Linked DNA regions of Homo sapiens: region 1 is linked to region 2. Evidence: fine-mapped expression QTL. A gene starts in region 2. The other region holds a variant in brackets. All regions are shown on one strand. Distances are from middle to middle.

Region 1 (5,378 bases), 22 kb after region 2:
GGACTAAAGCAAAGTCCTGGTCCAATTGGACAGTAACAAGCTATGGAGATTCCTTTCCCACAATACCATCAGACATCAGCCTGGGGTATATGGAGAGCTGAGTAATTGCCTTTGCCTCACCAGTGATGTTTAGGAATTGGGTACAAGTCGAGAGTTCTCCCATGGGCTTATTGAACCTGCCCCCTGCCTAGAGAGGCAAGAGGAGTAGTTCATATTCCCTATAGAGAATGAGGGGATTGCTGTGGGATCTGACCTCTGCAATGCAGGAAAGAGTAACGACAGACTCCTAGAAGTCTCATTTCCCATGCATCCTTATCCTCGTATAGAGCCAACATACAACGCATTCCTTCAGGACTGGTATCCCATCCTAGGGGAAACGGAGCCACTTTTGCCTGAGGTTGTCCTGCAGCACACACATAGCAATTACTCTTCTTGAGGGCTTATACCGAAAATTTGACCCATTAGACCCAGACATTCACATCCCTGTAAACTGTCTCAATTTCTATGATTTGCCTTAAATACTTTACCTCAATTATTTTTACCCTTTTAGGGTCATTATTTGGTGGACTAAAGTGTTTGTTAGGGTCTGGGGTTGCAGTAGTCCCAGGCAAATGGGAGGTTGAGTTATTGATTAGTTTGAGAACAAACCACCCTAGGGGTCTTTCCCTGTGATGTCTGCCCCTAACTTATGTACATAGGATGCTACTTCTGGTTCTTGGTCTAGAACAGCTGGATTGTCAATGGTGATGAGTATAGGATTGCATTCTAAATTCTGGCAGTTATTTGGTGGGGAGCTCTTGGACAGAGGTAGTTTATTCCTCAAAGGTCTTCAGCTCAGAGTTTCCCACCCCATGTTTACTGCCCAACCCTCAAATTGGGTAGTCCACCATACATCATCCCAGCTGGGGCAGGGTGATGCCCTACTGTAACCTGCATTTGACTCAGGGCAAAGATATTTATTCACCTGGGAGAGCTGTCTCTAATTTTCCAAATTCCCACAAGGTAAGACCTGGCAGGCATTAAATCTTATAGTTTGGGGTGCTACCATCTGGGTTATATTAACTACCAACCTGATTGGATAGGGAGGAGTCCCCTGCCAGTTTCCATTTTGACCTTCTGCTTCTTGTATAGTAGCCTATCCCAGCCATATTAACTTCCAGAAATGGGACCAGCTCATGTTTTCTTTTTAGATTTTTCTCAGAGTTAACTTTAAGGGTTCCTCAGGTGACCCATGCACTTTTCACCGGGTTTTTTCCCCTCCCTTCTGGGGTATCTTTTACCAGTTACTTGACTCAAGTATACTGAGTTCACCCCCATTCAGCTGTTTGCACAGCTGTCTCAGTGCTCAGGAGCACTTGATAAGGACCTTCCCAGCTTGGGTGCAGCATGTCTTCTTTCCAAGTCTTAATCAGCACCAAGTCACCAGGCTGGAAGTGGTAAACCACAAACTCAAGAGGCAGAATTTGAGTCAGAAGTCCTTTTAACCTAAGGGATAACAGGGTAGAGGATATGGCCAGTATATAATATCTTAAGAATTGATCAAAAAAAAATTGATCCTTGGTTTCCATAGTAGGGAGATCTGTAGCTCTGCCCAAATATGGGAGCCCATATAATAACTCATAGGGAGACAATCCCAAGTCTTTTCTTGGGGCTGTCTTAATCCTAAGGAGTGTTATTGGAAGACATTTTGTCCAAGGCATTTTAGTTTCTAAGATTAGTTTGATGATACACTTTTTGGGTGTTTGATTCATTCTTTCTACCTTTCCAGAGGAAGGGGGATGCCAAAGGGTGTGATAATCCCATCTAATTTGTAAACCTTCCATAATTCCCCTTAACAACCTTGAGAAAAAGTGGCTCCCATTGTCTGAATCAGTATTTTCCACCAGGCCAAATCTAGGGTACAATTGTTCTAATATTATTTTGACCACATTCCTGGTGGTGGCTGTTGAAAGGGGAAAGACCCAGCCAGGAAGGTGATCTATGATCACCAGTAAATACTTTAGTCTTCCTACTTAGGGCATTTCTGTGGTATCTACTTCAATGCTTTGAAATTGTCTTAATCTGGGAGGTCTTCCTCCCGTGGCCTGTTTTCTCATTATCTTTTTGTTTATCCTTTGACAAGCTACACAACTTCCACATACTTGTTTAATGAGGGTATAAATCCCTATACACCCATAATTCCTAAGTATTGCATTATACAGAGACTTGGATCCCCAGTGACTCCTTTTGCATAATACAGACATTAGTTTCTTATTGGGGGTTTACTCACACTGGTTCTTTCACACTGTCCACCT[T/G]TTTCTCGGCTGTCTGCTCTGGCTCTGCGGCTCCTGCCACCCCCACGCCTGCAGCTGCACTCCCTGGCCTGCTAGGCCAGCTTTTAGTCACAAAGCTAACCTTTAAAAGGCCTTGCCCACTGGTTCTTCCAGATTTAATCCAAAATATTTTCTCATCTGATCTCTGAGCCTCTGCAGGAATGCAGAGGGAGTTTCCTCTTTTTCTTGTTGAATCTCAAATGCCTTTACGACATTTTATGCCCTAGGAGTGGACTCTTTGATCTCTTCTAATTATTCATTCCTCCATTTGGGCCCAGTCCCTGGGATCTTTATTATCCAATTTGGGAATGACATTTGGGAATTTTTGTTTGGCTGGCAAGAACCCTTGCCCAGGAGAGTGTTGCCTGTCCCAGATGGTCATGACTGCTCTCCTAATCATTCCCCTTTCTTCTCCTGTGAACAGTATATTTATAATAGAATAATTTTAGCCCAGGTGTAAAAGCTGGGTCCTAGGATTTGGTACAGCTGGTCTGCTAAACTGAGGGGATCTTCTAGGAGTGGTTTCATTTCCTTCTTGAAATTCCTAACTTCAGTACCTGTAACAGGAGCATTTACAAAGCCAGTCTCTCCCTGTCCCATGGGAACTTCCCTAAGAGGATACATGCTAGATGCCTGCTGTGTGGAGTGGATAGGGGAGTTTTCAATATCCTCTTACACTGTTCTTTTTTTTACATATATACTTTAAGTTGTAGGGTGCGTGTGTACAACGTGCAGGTTTGTTACATATGTATACATGTGCCATGTTGGTGTGCTGCACCCATTAACTCGTCATTTACATTAGGTATATCTCCTAATGCTATCCCTTCGCCCCCACCCCCAACACCCCACAACAGGCCCTGGAGTGTGATGTTCCCCTTCCTGTGTCCAAGTGTTCTCATTGTTCAATTCCCACCTATGAGTGAGAACCTGCGGTGTTTGGTTTTCTGTCCTTGCGATAGTTTGCTGAGAATGATGGTTTCCAGCTTCATCCATATCCTTACAAAGGACATGAACTCATCCTTTTTTATGGCTGCATAGTATTCCATGGTGTATATGTACCACATTTGCTTAATCCAGTCTATCATTGATGGACATTTGGGTTGGTTCCAAGTCTTTGCTATTGTGAATAGTGCTGCAATAACCATACGTATGCATGTGTCTTTATAGCAGCATGATTTATAATCCTTTGAGTCTATGCCCAGTAATGGGATGGCTGGGTCAACTGGTATTTCTAGTTCAAGATCCTTGAGGAATCGCCACAGTCTTCCACAATGGTTGAACTAGTTTACAGTCCCAACAACAGTGTAAAAGTGTTCCTATTTCTCCACATCCTCTCCAGCACCTGTTGTTTCCTGACTTTTTAATGATCACCATTCTAACTGGTGTGAAATGGTATCTCATTGTGGTTTTGATTTGCATTTCTCTGATGACCAGTGATGACGAGCATTTTTTCATGTGTCTGTTGGCTGCAAAAATGTCTTATTTTGAGAAGTGTCTGTTCATATCCTTCACCCACTTTTTGTTGGGGTTGTTTGATTTTTTCTTGTAAATTTGTTTAAGTTCTTTGTAGATTCTGGATATTAGCCCTTTGTCAGATGGGTAGATTGTAAACATTTTTTCCCATTCTGTAGGTTGCCTGTTCACTCTGATGGTAGTTTCTTTTGTTGTGCAGAAGCTCTTTAGTTTAATTAGATCCCATTTGTCTATTTTGGCTTTTGTTGCCATTGCTTTTGGTGTTTTAGTTATGAAGTCCTTGCCCATCCCTATGTCCTGAATGGTATTGCCTAAGTTTTCTTCTAGGGTTTTTATGGTTTCAGGTCTAACACTTAAGTCTTTAATCCATTTTGAATTAATTTTTGTATAAGGTGTAAGGAAGGGATCCAGTTTCAGCTTTCTACGTATGGCTAGCCAGTTTTCCCAGCACCATTTATTAAATAGGGAATCCTTTCCCCATTTCTTGTTTTTGTCAGGTTTGTCAAAGATCAGATGGTTGTAGATGTGTGGTATTATTTCTGAGGGCTCTGCTCTGTTCCGTTGGTCTATATCTCTGTTTTGGTACCAGTACCATGCTGTTTTGGTTACTGTAGCCTTGTGGTATAGTTTGAAGTCAGGTAGCATGATGCCTCCAGCTTTGTTCTTTTGGCTTAGGATTGTCTTGGCAATGCAGGCTCTTTTTTGGTTCCATATGAACTTTAAAGCAGTTTTTTTCCAATTCTCTGAAGAAAGTCCTTGGAAGCTTGATGGGGATGGCATTGAATCTATAAATTACCTTGGGCAGTATGGCCATTTTCATGATATTGATTCTTCCTATCCATGAGCATGGAATGTTCTTCCATTTGTTTTTGTCCTCTTTTATTTCATTGAGCAGTGGTTTGTAGCTCTCCTTGAAGAGATCCTTCTCATCCCTTGTAAGTTGGATTCCTAGGTATTTTATTCTCTTTGAAGCAATTGTGAATGGGAGTTCACTCATGATTTGGCTCTCTGTTTGTCTCTTATTGGTGTATAGGAATGCTTGTGATTTTTGCACATTGATTTTGTATCCTGAGACTTTGCTGAAATTGCTTATCAGCTTGAGGAGATTTTGGGCTGAGACGATGGGGTTTTCTAAATATACAATCATGTCATCTGCAAACAGGGACAATTTGACTTCCTCTTTTCCTAATTGAATACCCTTTATTTCTTTCTCCTGCCTGATTGCCCTGACCAGAACTTCCAACACTATGTTGAATCGGAGTGGTGAGAGAGGGCATCCCTGTCTTGTGCCAGTTTTCAAAGGGAATGCTTCCAGTTTTTGCCCATTCAGTATGATATTAGCTGTGGGTTTGTCATAAATAGTTCTTATTATTTTGAGATACGTCCCATCAATACCGAGTTTATTGAGAGTTTTTAGCATGAAGCGCTGTTGAATTTTGTCAAAGGCCTTTTCTGCATCTATTGAGATAATCATATGGTTTTTGTCTTTGGTTCTGTTTATATGATGGATTACATTTATTGATTTGCATATGTTGAACCAGCCTTGCATCCCAGGGATGAAGCCCACTTGATCATGGTGGATAAGCTTTTTGA
Region 2 (5,378 bases):
TGGGTGTCACAGCATCAGGGCTCCTTCATCTCCCCAGACCTAGTCCCCTCCAGTTCCTCTGTGTCTCAGCCAGTCCCTCCCCTGCCCTGGTCATCCCTGCTTCTTGTCCTCACCCGCATTTCCCCACCTCTGTGAGCTCCTATCCCACTGCCCACCACCTCTGACAAGCCTTCCCATGCTTCTCTTGACCTCTGCGCCTCCACACCTGCTCTCCACCTTCACAGAGTCAAAAAGTGAAAGAGTTGTACAAACTCTTGTTTGTGCCAATTGGTGTCCCTGGTCTCCAACCTCCACGGGACCTTGAATGCCCCCGAGGATGACAAAGTGGTTGAGGTCATGGCTTTGCAGCAAGGTTCGGGTTGGAAGCCCCCCTCTGCTCCTTGCTCCATCTCTGATTTTGGGCCCTCCCTGAGGCTTGTTTCTTCCTCTATAAAATGAGGACGTGAGTAACACCTGCCTCATATGATTGTTGGAAGAATAAATGAGAAAAGGCGTGGGCACAGCGTAGCTCTTGGCACTAAAAATAAGTGAGTTGTTGTTTCTGTTATGAACTACAACTAACACTGGTACTCGCGCTTGTCTCTGCTCAGACTTCTCTCTCCCATTTCCCTCACAGGAAATGAAAACCCTCAGTATTGTCCTTTAGCACGCCACGCTGTCCCACCCCTTGGCTCTCAGAACATGATCTCGTCTCCTGCTGCACTAAGAAAAGCAAGGTGCTCACTTGTGGAATTTCTTCCTCTTTCTGCCTTAGCCCTGCTCACTTGCAAACTCATCAGTAGCCTCCTCGCCCTCATCTCCACCCCGTCATTGTTTGGGTACGGGGCCTCCAATCTCATGCAGGCCCATCTTCCCTCTAAGCTCTAGATTTGTCCTTCCCATCACCAAGCCTTGCTCCATCCGTTGTCCCTCCTCTCCCGGCGCGCTAGCACCGTTCCCCTCCTGCTCCTCCTTCCCCTGCTCGTAGAGACTTTCTCAGTCTCCATCTTCTAAATGCCTTCCCTCAAGTCTCATGCTGACTGCTACTCCCTTGTCTCTTTCCCCCTCTTCTCGCCCAAACTCCTGGGGAAAATCGCCACTTTCTCCCTCCCGCTTGTTTTCCAACCTGGTGAATTGGCCTCCCTGCCATCACCGCGCGCTGAAACTGCTCTGCGGGTCCAAGGAGGCCCCCTTCGACTCTGTCTCATGGGAGCTCTCAGCTGTACTCATGCCGTCCGCCACCCGCTGTTGAAAGGCTTGCCTCTCCTGGTTTCCACGATGCTCCCTTCTCCCAGGTTTCCTCCTCCCTCTCTGGCTGACTCTCCTCCTTATCCTCCGTGGAATTCACTTCTGCCCAGGCCATAAACGCTGATATGCTTTCTAAGGCCTTCCTGCCTTGAGCCCTCTTCTCTTCCACTTTGAGGAAACCCCCTGGGCAGCCCTGCTGTTAGCCACCGCCTGAAGGCTGGCAACCCCTGTGGCATCTTCCCCAAGACCTCAGAGGCAGCTACTGGCAGGACACTTCCACTTGAATGCCCTGCAGGCACCTCAAACCCAGCACATCTAAACAGAACCACTGTTTCCATCAATGCCTTCTTCTGCCTTGTGACTTTCCTTATGTGCTTTAAAACATGATGGGCCACACATTTACCCAAACTGGAAATATGAATGTCATTCTTCACTCCTTCCCCATGACATCTTTCACCCAGTTCCAACCAATCAGTCCCAATGTCCTGTGGATTCCACCTTCCCTCCGAGAGCACCGTCCTTTCCTAGGTTCACACCTCCATCCTGGCTTCCTTCATGGTCTTCTTGTATCATGTCTCAACCACTCTTCCAAGCTATTCTATACACATCCATCAGAACAAATTTGTTAAATGAAAAGCCCAGCCCTGTGACACCTTGGATGGCTCCCACCATAACTGCCCCTTCGAGGTCCACACGGCCCTTCACGACCCTTCACAGCCCAGCCCTGCGGCCCACTCCCTCATTCACACGTTATGTTTCAGCAGTGCCACCTTGTTCTCTCACAATGACCTTGCTTTCTAGAACATTCACCCTCTCCTTTCCTCTACATGGTTAACTCTGACTCATACTTGAAGGGTCTTATCAGAGGTGTGTTCCCCAGTGAGAGTCTCCTGGCATGCCACCACCCCCCACACTCTCACACACCCGATCTTCCACATCCTCTGTCACACGAGGCTGGAATAGATGTCAGTCTTTCCCACCACAAAGTTAACTTCTGAAGAACGGCGGCTGGTCTTATTTATCTGCATGTCTTATTTATCTGCAGAGTTGCTGGCATGGAGTAGCTGCTCTGTGGCTGCTTCTGAAACTCAAGTCCACAAAAGGCGTGGCCACAGGGACATGAGACCTTCTTCTCACCGCGAGGGGAGTGAGAAGGAGGAGGCAGCCAACCTGGTGGAGTTTGTCAAGTCTTTGAACACTGTGCCAGGCCTTTCCCAGAGCTTTTCCAACTTAATCTCATCCAATCCTCTCAGCAATTGAAAGGTGTGGGGTTAATATCCCTAAGTTGTAGAGGAGGAAACTAAATTGACTGCTACACATGGACTGTTTTTGATTTTTTTTTTTTTTTTTTTTTTGTAGAAAAGTGACTTAAAAGGAATTCCATCCTGAGCATTTCACAACAGCTCCAGAGTTTCTCTCTCTCTCTCTCTCTCCTCTCTCAGCTGGTCACTCTTCCAGGCCAGGATAACCCCACCCTAACCACCACCTTGTTTTTCTCCACCTGGTCTCTGGCCAGACCAACCCAGCGCCCCTGTTAACAGCCCCAGGAAGAAGGGAAAGGGGGCTCACTGATCAGGGGTGCTCCCCGCAGAGCTGAGACCATGGTGACAATGGCAGCAGCAGCAGTGGCTCAAAACCCTGCTTCAGCTCAAGATGTCCCCCACAACCTTGCCAGGGCCCCAGGCACCCAGTGTTAAGAGAACAATGGGGAAGGCAGGCTCCAGGCCAACGGAGGGCCTTCTAGAACTCCAGCTCTGTGAGCTCATCTTCCACAAACAGCGCCACCACAGAGCTTTGACTAGCCCACCTGAGCCCTTCCACTCAGGGTCCAGAGGCAGAGCAGGATATCTAATCCCAGCCCCCTTGCACATCTCTGCCCCACACACACACACACATACACACATGCGCGCGCGCACACACACACACACACACACACACACACACACACTACACTGAGGGATGACACTTCCTCTCCCAACAGATCTTTCAGATGATTATCCAGGGATAATGGTAGACACCTAGGGATGGTGATGGATGTACAGAGATGGTGATGGGTACCCAGGGATGTTAACAGGTGTGCAAGGACAGTGGTGCGTGTGCAAGGATGGTAGTGGGTGCCCAGAGATGGTGGTGTGTGTGCAGGGATGGTAGTGGGTGCACGGGGATGATGGTGGGTGCCCAGGGATGGTGATAGATGTGCAGGGATGGTGGTTGGTGCCCAGAAATAGTGGTGGATATGCAGGCATTGTGGTGGGTGCCCAGGGACAGTGGTGGGTGTGCAAGAACAGTGGTGGATGTGCAAGGATGGTAGTGGGTGCCCAGGGATGGTGGCAGATATGCAGTGATGGTGGTAGGTGCCCAGGCACAGTGGTGGGTGTGCAGGGACAGTAGTGGGTGCCCAGGGATGGCAGTGGGTGCCCCAGGATGGTGGTGGGTGTGCAGGGATGTTGGTGGGTGCCCAGGCACAGTGATGGGTGTGCATGGATGGAAGTGGGTGCCCAAGGATGGTAGCAGGTGCCCCAGGATGGTGGTGCATGTGCAGGGATGGTGGTGGGTGTTCAGAGACAGTGGTGGATGTGCAGGGATGGTAGTGTTGGGTGCCCAGGGATGGTGGTGGATGTTCAGGAATGGCGGTGGGTGCGCAGAGGCAGAGGTGAGTGTGTAGGATGGTGGTCAGTGTGCAGGTACGGTGGTAAGTGTGCAAGGATAGTGGTAGATTCCCAGAGATGGTGATGTGTGCCCAAGGATTGTGAGGGATGTGCAGGGATGGGGGTAGGTGCCCAGGGATGGTGGTGGGTTCCTAGGGATGGTGGTGGTTGCCCTCTGCTTTTCCAGGCTGCCCATCTCACCATGAAGCTCCTTTGAGTGCCAGAAAGTTCTTCCTTAATGCTGAGCCACAAGCCACTCCCTTCTCCACCTGGATGATGGCCATTCAGTGTGGACAGGTGCAGGGCAAAGGTTACCCTATTGACCCTAAAACTTAAAGGACAGAGAATTGGAAGGAAAGGGCATGTGGTGCCCACGTCTGTGTCCCACAGGAGCCTGAGTCCCACAGCACAGCAGCTAGAGCATAGGCTTTGGGGTCAGGCTGACCAGGGCTGAACACAGGCGCTAGTGACTTCCAGGTGGATGACCTAGAGAAAACAGCCTCACTTTCTGATTCCTTGATTCTCAAGCGGGGATGACAACACCAACCTCACAGGGTACTAGGAAGGCTCAATGAAACAGCAACAAAGTGCTTAGTACCCCAGGTGCTCAATAAATAATAGTAATTACTACTAAGTGCAGAGCACAGCCATAAAAGTGTCTGGTTGCACCATGTCCACCCTATCTGTCTGGGCCCCACCCCAGGACAACCAAGTTAAAATTGAGGGATGGCCCAGCATCAGCACCAGTATTTTTTTCTTTCATTTTTTTATTGAGGTAAGAACACTTAGTAGGAGATCTACCCTCTTAACATATATTTAATATGCAATCCATTATTGTTGACTGTAGAGGACACTGCTGTACAGCAGCTCTCTTGAGCTCATTCATCTTGCCTGACTGGATTTTCTTTTTTTTCTTTTTTTCTTTTCTTTTTTTTTTTTTGTTTTTTGTTTTTTGTTTTTTGAGATGGAGTTTCACTCTTTTGCCAGGGCTAGAGTGAAGTGGCATGATCTCGGCTCACTACAACCTCTGCCCCCTGCGTTCAAGCTATTCTCCTGCCTCAGCCTCCCAAGTAGCTGGGATTACAGGCATGCACCACCACGCCTGGCTAATCTTTGTATTTTTAGTAGAGACAGGGTTTCACCATGTTGGCCAGGCTGGTCTCGAACTCCTGACCTCAGGTGATCCACCTGCCTTGGCCTCCCAAAGTGCTGGGGTTACAGGCGTGAGCCACCACACCCAGCCACCTGACTGGATCTTTATGCTCATTGATTAGTAACTCCCTGTTTTCTCCTCCTGCCAGCCCCTGGTGACCACCATTCCTCTCTTTGATTCCATGAATTTGACTATTCTAGGTACCTGATAAAAGTAGAATTATTTCCTTTTCTGTAACTGGCATATTTCACTTTGCATATTGTCCTTAAATCTCATCCATATTGTTGCATATGTCAGAAATTTCTTCTTTTTTAAGCCTGAATAGTATTCCACTTTGTGTGTATACCACA

The links. PIP is the estimated chance that this variant, and not a neighbour inherited with it, causes the effect.
Region 1: its variant is the best candidate, but not a certain one, in a credible set for the expression of SPACA3 in tibial nerve (GTEx, PIP 0.52).

Annotation. Positions count from the first base shown.
Region 1 is chr17:32,967,385-32,972,762 of GRCh38, reverse strand. No RefSeq gene overlaps it. Among named protein-coding and RNA genes, the nearest start is that of SPACA3, 22 kb to the left of the region's middle. The variant T/G (reference allele first, on the strand shown) is at 2,295.
Region 2 is chr17:32,989,391-32,994,768 of GRCh38, reverse strand. SPACA3 (sperm acrosome associated 3) reads right to left here and starts at 2,922. Exons shown (of 5, transcript NM_173847.5): 1 at 2,797-2,922. The coding sequence starts at 2,830.